Linked DNA regions of Homo sapiens. The protein of the gene in region 1 interacts with the protein of each later gene in a biochemical or structural test. Each region holds a gene or a part of one and is shown on either strand. Other genes may lie near its edges.

Region 1 (5,269 bases):
AATGTCATCTTGCTGACACATTTTGCCATTCCTTGACCTGTAGATGCCTCTGCCACACCATTGCCTTTATCTCTACGTGGTGTCTTCCCTGTGTCTGTGTGTGTCTTTCTCCATGTCCCAAGTTTCCCTGTGAAAGAACACAAGTCATGTTAGATTTGTAACGACCTGATCTTAACTAATTACATTTTCAGTAACCGTATCACCAAATAAGGTCACAATCTGAAGTACTGGGGCCTAGGACTTCCACATATAAAGTCTTAGAGGAAACAATTCAATCCATAACACCCTATCTATTGAAACTAGAACCATAATATAAATATTTTTCTGTGATATCCTTTTTTCATTTATCATGGATAAATTTCCATGCTGATTTGTGTAGATCTATCGATTGGGGCATAATATCCCATAGTGTGCTTTACCATAATTTATTTAATCAAATCATGCATTTTGGGATAACTGTTCTTTTCCACTATTACAAACAACTCTGCAAAAAGCACATTTGTATATATAGTTTTATGCATGTGTATTTGCTTTGAGATAGGTATCTATAAGTGGCATTAATCAGTCGAGACTTTTATGCATTTTATGTGTTAGGTACAGCCATACATGTGGCTGTGTGTTAGGTATAGCCTATGGGTTAGGCATAGCCTGTGTGTTAGGTATAGCCTATGGGTTAGGTATAGCCTACGTGTTAGGTATAGCCTATGTGTTAGGTATAGCCTATGTGTTAGGTATAGCTACATTTTTTTCTCTCGAACTTTGGGTCCTCATCTCTGGCTGCATATTGTGTACTGCCTGTCTCAATACTGCTCAAGGGTCACACATGCTGAGCATTTGCAACATTGGTTTAATTATCATACCCCACCTTCCACCCCCGTTCTCTGACCTGCTCCTGCCCTCTTCCTCCTGCCTCATTGAATAGTGGGGCTTTCCAGGAGGCTGCTGAGTGAGTAAACGGGGGACGGTCCTAAATGCTCTGCTTTCGGTTCCCTCTACCACTCATCACTACACCAGAGGGAACTTTTTAAGATGCAAATTTGAAAATATTGACCCTTTGTTCAAAAATCTTCAAAAGTTCTTCTCTGCAGTCAGAGTGACATCTTAGCTTGGCACACAAGGCTGTCCCTGATACTGCCCTCTCTCCTGCCATACCTTGCACTCCATTTTGAGTCATATTGGATGAGTTTTGTTTTGCTGTTTTAGAGATGGGGACTTGCTATGATGCTCAGGCTGAATTTGAATTCCTGGGTTCATCTACAGCCATACCACCCAGAGTGCCTGATCTCATCTGCACTCCTGGGCTCAAGCAATCCTCCCGTCTCAGCCGCCCAAGTAGCTGGGACTATAGGTGGACATCACTGTGCCCAGCTATGAATTAGTTTTGAAACATCTTGGTGGTTCTTTTAATCTTCCTTATTCTTGCTACTCTTTTCCTTTTGCCTGGAAGGTTACCCCCACTTTCCCACTTTCTACTATCCATCTAAGAAGCTCCTACTTATTTTTTAATTACTGTGATCCTCATTTTGTCCATTTAAAAGCAGGGATAAAACTAACATTCCCATCTTGAGGTTGTGATCATTCAATGAGATAACCCTGTTTAAAGTCGTCATCCATGTCAAGCACACAATAAATACTCAAAAAATGTTTGATCTTCTTCTTCAGATTCCTTCCTTCCTTCCTTCCTTCTTCCTCCTCCTCCTTTCTTTCTCTCTTTTTCTTTTTCTCTTTCTTTCTTTCTTTCTCTCTCTCTCTCTTTCTTTCTTTCTCTTTCTCCCTTCCCTTCCCCTCCCCCCCCCCTTTCCCTTTCCCCTTTCCTTTCCTTATTTTCCTTTCTTTTCTTTTCTTTTTTTAAGACAGGGTTTTGCTCTGTGGCTCAGACTGGAGTGCAGTGGTAGGATCATAGCTCACTGTAGCCTTGAACTCTCCTGGGCTCAAGCAATCTTCCTGCCTCAGCCTTCTGACTAGCTAGGACTACAGGTGTGTACTACCATGCCTGGGTAATGTTTAAAATGTTTAAAATTTTTTATGTAGAGACAGGGTCTTGCTATGTTGCCCAGGCTGGTCTCAAACTCCTGGCCTCAAGTGGTCCTCCCACCTTGGCCTCCCAAAGCACTGGGATTCAGTTTTCATTATGAGACAGTTTTGTGACATAGGCAGGTAGTTAATAAATAAAAATCCCCAACCAATTAACTTAATACAGTACATGGCAAGATATCCGTGCTTGGTAAATGTAGAGCTCAGTTAGGTGGATTGGTTGAAATCGAGATGTCAATCACATTCCTCTAATCCAAGGATTGGTTGGTGGGACATGGTTGTTTGATTCTTTAAACATTTTATTATGTGTTCAGTGTAACCGTTGCTTAATAGTTACCAGCATTTTCACAATTTGGATATGACGTTTTCTTAACAAAACTGCACCGTCTGTTGCAATTTCTACTACTACTGTGTAGTGCTCCCCAAACATCTGTTGAATAATCCATTCTACTCCTTTTTGGAAATAGTGGTAAAGCCTGCATAACTTTAATTACATAATTTAAAAAATATTTTCTCTTTTCCTCTTTGAAGACCATCCCCATTCTACTAGAATGTCCCTGGCCTTTGCCAGGAATGCTACTAATCCCTTCTGCATGTTAATTAACAACAACCCTCTGATAGAATTCTTACCGGGGATGAGAGCTTAGTAGAAGCCACTCAAAACTTGCTTTGTTTTTGTCTGTCTCTCTTGGGCTTCATTTGCCTATTAGTCTTACTTACTGTGTCTTTTCAGTTTGACTCTTCCTTAATTGGGAAGATAGAAACCAGTGGATGGATAATCACTTTTTCCTGCTGGTCATCTGTTCATGCTTTACTGTCTGAATACACTTTTTCTGTATTTCTATTTTTCCTGCCTCGTAGACACCAAAGAGCTTAAAAAACATGCCATTGCCAAGGACTCTGGCAGGAAGGAGGCAATCACCTGCGCTATTCCTGGCTTCATGGAATAGAAGCATCTGTGCTCCTAGGAATTACGCCACCAGTGATTTTAGAGCTCTTATGCTCTTCCTGGGTGATAGAATGGGCTTAATTTGACTCAAGAATAGTACATCAAAACTCTTAATTCCATCGAGATTGATGCATTTTTGGGGTTTTATGCTCTAAAAGGCCTTTTGCTGTGCAGAAGGAAGAGAGAGGTGGACAGAAAGGGCAGTGGGGAGAAGATGAGACTAAAAGGTGGAAAGTCCAGGTCTGGATCCCTCCCCACCACACACCTGCTCTGTGGCCTTGAGAGAAACATGTAATTTTTATAAGCCTTAGATTTCTAATATGTAAAATGTATGTAATAGTTTTAGCTGCACTCCTTCCTTGCCAGGTTGATATAATAATCAAATAAGACTGGTCTCTGGGTCAGGCACAGTGGCTCATGCCTGTAATCCCAGCACTTTGGGAGGCCAAGGTGGGTGGATTGTCTGAGCCCAGGAGTTTAAGACTGCAGTGAGCTGTGCACTTGGCCTGGGTGACTGAGCAAGAGCCTGGCTTTTTCTATTTATTTATTTATTTTTGAGACAGAGTCTCACTTTGTTGCCCAGGTTGAAGTGCAGTGGCAATCTCGGCTCACTGCAACCTCTGCCTCCCAGGTTCAAGCAATTCTCCTGCCTCAGCCTCCCAAGTAGCTGGGATTACAGGTGCCCACCACCACCCTAACTAATTTTTATATTTTTAGTAGAGATGGGCTTTCACCATGTTGGCCAGGCTGGTTTTGAACTCCTGACCTCGTGATCCACCCTCCCAAAGTGCTGGACCTCCCAAAGTGCTGGGATTACAGGCATAAGCCACTGCACCTGGCCTTATTTATTTATTTATTTAGGCAGGGTCTCACTCTGTCACCCAGGCTAGAGTGTGGCAGCGCAATCATGGCTCACTGCAGCCTCGACTTCCTGGACTCAAGCGATCCTCCCACCTCTCCAACGTGGTTGAGGGCTGCAGCGAGAAAGATGTGAAAGGGGCATTTGGGGGCGCAGGAAGGCGGGAGGTGGCAATTGCTAAGGGCCCCGCCGTGTTCCTGTCACAGCCCTAGCTACAGCTTAGAAGGTCACAATGGACGTTCACCTGTTGTCTTTGATGTTTAAATCAGCACCGACTTCCCATGAGGAGGATTTTTTTTTCCTGTCTCTCTTAAAAAAAAAAAAAAAGGCCCCTGCAGTGTGGGTGTCTGCAGTGTTACGGGGATTATTAGTTGAGGATAACCACTGGGATGTGTTTCTGGAAGAAGTGGTGCTGAGGAGCACTCCTGGCCGGAGGAAAGCTGTGTGAGGAGGAGGAGGAGTATGGGGTAACTGGCTCAGTTTGCCTTGGCTCTTTCTGTCGGACTCATACAGCAAAGCATCTGCTGAGACATCATTTGTGTCTCCTGTGACAGCCAGAGACAGCAGGTCTTGCTCTCCCCAGATCATATCTGAGATGCTGGCTCCTGCTCTCTGAGCTGAAGGCTGCAGCTGCTGAGAGAGGACGAGGCACTGAGTCAAAGCAGCTGCACAATGTTGGGGAACAGCTGGGTACTGAGGACTCTTCTCCCTGTCCTTCTACAGGTTGGTGAATTCTGGCCTTACGTCAGTCTGTTGTTCAGCTTTGTCCTCGGTACTCAGCACTAATCAGAATCTCACGCACCTTTACCTGCGAGGCAACACTCTCGGAGACAAGGGGATCAAACTACTCTGTGAGGGACTCTTGCACCCCGACTGCAAGCTTCAGGTGTTGGAGTAAGTCCTTTGGTTTATTACAGCAATGAGAACACATGGTGGCCAAGGGTGGAGGGACGTTTAGGCAGAGTGGCCACAAGATAATCTGTATCTTAGAAGTGAGGTGTCTTCTTAGTGTTTGCCTTGTTACAGGATCATGGGACTGGGAGGAGTCCTTCCAGATGATATAGATGTAGGAACTTGAGTCCTTACCATCACAGTTTTCTGTACCACAAAACAAGGAGGGCAGTATGACACTTACATTTTATGGAAATGTAGGGAAAGGCACAGAATTTGGTAAATCAATGAACAAACCACTGTTACTAATTTGATCTGTGCAATGCAGTGGATTTGAAAAAGAGAGAGAAGAATAATTACCAGCATACAAGGCTGCTTGAAGCTAGTTAGTCCTGTGCTCCTGTGCTTTTTTTTTTTCCACCTGAAACAAGACAGGCTAAGATGCTAAAATCTTGGGGAGCTAGGGGGATGGTTAAGGGGACATTTTCTTTAAATCACCCCCTTTTTGCAGATTAGACAACTGCAACCTCACGTCA
Region 2 (3,500 bases), about 49 Mb from region 1:
CATTTAAGTATTCTTTTTTTTTCCCCTCAATTATTGCGCATTTACTGAAATATAGACTTCTTTTTTTCACTTAAATATGTGGTCTGAGATATCATTAGAGACTTTTACAGTGTTTCCAGAACTAAACACTATTTTCCTAGGAACTATCTGATGTTTTAAGAATGTACCTCTGTAGTATTACAAATGTCGCCACCATTCAGGGTACCTGAGAACTGGGCCTGAGAGCAGGGCCCAGTTAAGTGTTAGTGATTACGCACTTTTGGGGAAAAAAAAAGTAGGTAATTCCAAAATTTCTTTCAGGTTTTGTTTCCCTTGATTTTTTTTTTTTTTTAAATAGGCTTTGGTATTTTAAAAATGCACAGTGTAGTATTTAAAAAATACACAGTGTAGCTGCAGCTGCAGCTGCACAAAACAGCACTCTGTCCTCATTCCCGGTTTCATTCACATTTAAGTGTTTACCCCTTCGAATTTTTGTTGGAAAACTACGAGGGTAGGTATTTCAGTGCATCGTCTATAAAACATATTAAACTTAATGTACGACTTAAGGGTGTCTTGGAAATGCCATGTATGATTACTGTTTGCTCCGAATTGTTTTATCAGCACTTCATCAGGATTTATGTAAATATATAGCAAGATGTTTTAAGACGCATTTCTTTACCCTTTTGAGACTTTTTCAATTTAATTCTCCCCCCTCCACCCATTTTTGTAGGGAATATGGATGAATAACATTTGGTTACATAATTGTAATCAAATATATGCATTTGTATAATATAATGGCAGTTCAGAATTTTTAAATTGATACAATTCAATCTCAGAGTTATAAAACTTCTAAACTGCTGAATTCTCCTTTGGTAATTAATAGTTTGATTATTCCTAGGTGTTGTGTATTTTCACAAAATTTTTTTTATTCTGAAGAAAACACTTACAGAGTATATTTCATGCTTTTCAGTGGGCAGTGGGAATGAGAAGGACAGATGATCATGAAGCATTCCTTAATATTTTTGAGCAGGATAACTTCTTTTTTAACCTTTGTCAAAATAACTGCCCTGCCATACTATTTAGGTAATGAGGTTATACAATGAGTGGTTTTGTTGTAATAGCTATCAAAGTGTTAAGCGGAACAATATATAAATGAATAAAACTGATTTTAGTGGTCTATAAAAATTGAGAAATACGTGTTTTCTGTTACATAATGGAAATAGGCCTTTTTGTAAATCTTATTAGTAGTCTTCTGTTGGTAGTGGGTAAGGGCTACTTTTTCAATCCAGTCTGCTTTTTTATAGAATAGTGATTCACAATTTTTTTCTCTGAAGGATCACATGGTAAATATTTCTGGCTTTGTGAGCCCTGTGATTGCATCTGCTGCCATTGTAGCCAAATACAGTATCTGACCAAGTGGGCATAGGTGTGTTCAAATAAAGCTTTATTTATACAAATAGGTTGGTAGCTTTCCCCCACTCTAGAAAATAATACCAGAGGTCTAAATGTGGTGCTATGCCATTGATGTTTGGGTTGATTCGGAATTTTCCACAACAGCGTTTTATAATTATTTTTGTGCTTAGACTCTTGTGACAATTTGTTGATCTTCCACAGTTCCCTCAGAATAATACCCAGCTGTCCATTCCCAAATTTTGTGTTTCATTTCAGAGTTTGTCAGCATAAGAACCTCTTTTAGGTTTATCCATGTTTTCAGGTTTCTTCACCATTCTTTGCTTCTGGAGGATCCCACTCCTATCCTGTGACATTGAATGAATGCCTGTCTGTGGCTCCCTGCTTCTGACTAAAGCGACATAGAATCTAATGTCAGTCATTTGTCTTTACTAAATGAAAACTACTAGACAAAGAAACATACCAAAACTTACTCATATGTTTCTTTGTCTAGTAGTTTTTATTTTAAGCCTACTGGTATGACTACCTTTGTCTACTTTAGAGGGAATTTTTGACATAAGCAAGGGGTTGGGCAAATTTTTTTCTTTTTAGGAAACATTAACTTAGTCTTTCAAAAAAGACTCTCCCCCGCCCCAGTAAAAAATATTGGAAAGAGCCTGTGCTTTAGCAGAGGGCCTACAGTCAAGGTATGTTTGGCCTGGGGTAGAGGTACTTCTGACCTTTGCTCTGAAAAGAATTAGCTGTAGACTTACCTGGGTGTAGCTACTGAGTAGCATAGAGCAGAATGGAAAATGCAACAGCTTTGTGAAAAAATTACACAGTACACTTTCTCAGCTCTAGTCAGGAGTGGGTTTTGTGTGTGCTGGACTTTTGACCCCTTAGCCCTCGGGGAAGCCCAGGTAGGACCTGGGACAATCAGAATTCCTGGCTAGTTGCCACCAGCTACAAGCAGTCTCTTCTCTTTATCTGACCCTGCTGCACATATATTATCATTATCTGTGTTTACCATGATGTGGAAAAGACTAGGCAGAAAACTCCAGGGTTGTCATTGCCTACTTTATGACCTTGGTTGAGTTGCTCATTTTATTCAGACTGTAGTTGTCGCAACTCATAAAGTTGCCTTGAGGAGTAAATGAAAATACCTTTGTAAATGTATGGTAGCAGGCCCAGTGTTAGTTTCATTTCACTTACTTCTCTATTCTTAGGACCTTCAGGGGTGGGAAACACATCTCCTGTTGTCAGTTTGTTCTGATGACAGGCCCTGTCACCCACTCTGCCTTGGCCCAGTTTTGTCTTAATGGGCTGCTTCCCACTTCTGCCATTTCCACTTCCTCTGCTTGAATTCTCCTTTTCCTTTGCCCTGTGATTTCCATATTCAAAATTTAATGGTTCCTACATTTGAGTTAGTTTTTATGACTTTCTTTGGAGTGTGGGGAGAGCCAGCAAGCCATAGTTTCTCAGGCAGAAAAAGGCACAAGAGGCTTGGGGGGTTATATTATGGACTACAAATAATGTGAGTTGCAAAAAGATCTTTAAATACAGATTCAAAAAATTGGCAAAATTAAAAATGTTCTTCCTAGCATGCTTAAAATTGTTTTTTTAAATTGTTGAAATATTTCCCCTATATCCTTATATTTACCTAGGTGAATTACTATACATTTTATTATGGTTATAATCATAACAAAGACATATGTCCTTATATTATGGTTGGAAAAGTTGAATAGATGTGTTTATGAAAAATTGTTATACTTCTAAAATGTAATGAATTCCTAATCTTGTATTGCCTTTATATCTAACTGCTGGACCATATAGTAAAGTGATATGATACCGGCACAGTGGCTCATACTTGTAGTCTCAGCACTTTGGGAGGCCAAGGTGGGAAGATTGCTTGAGACCTGGAGTTCAAGACCAGCCTGATCAATATAGTGAGACCCTGTCACTACAAAAAATTTAAAAAAAATTAGTTGGGCTTGGTGGCACGCACCTGTAATCCCAGCTACTTGGGAGGCTAAGGCAGGAGGATTGCTTGGGCCTGGAGGATGGCTTGAGTCTAGGATTTCGAGGCTGCAGTGAGCTGTGATGATGCCACCGCACTCCCACCTGGTGACAGA

What was found.
Region 2: the proteins of NLRP3 (region 1) and NEK7 are reported together in a solved structure, tested with the Homo sapiens proteins (one study listed by IntAct).

The regions. Positions count from the first base shown.
Region 1 is NC_000001.11:247,439,407-247,444,675, forward strand, and holds part of NLRP3 (NACHT, LRR and PYD domains-containing protein 3), read left to right. Parts: exon of another isoform or gene 1-127; intron 128-4,565; coding exon 4,566-4,736; intron 4,737-5,244; coding exon 5,245-5,269. UniProt on the Homo sapiens protein: Sensor component of the NLRP3 inflammasome, which mediates inflammasome activation in response to defects in membrane integrity, leading to secretion of inflammatory cytokines IL1B and IL18 and pyroptosis.
Region 2 is NC_000001.11:198,159,998-198,163,497, forward strand, and holds part of NEK7 (serine/threonine-protein kinase Nek7), read left to right. Parts: intron 1-3,500. UniProt on the Homo sapiens protein: Protein kinase which plays an important role in mitotic cell cycle progression. Required for microtubule nucleation activity of the centrosome, robust mitotic spindle formation and cytokinesis.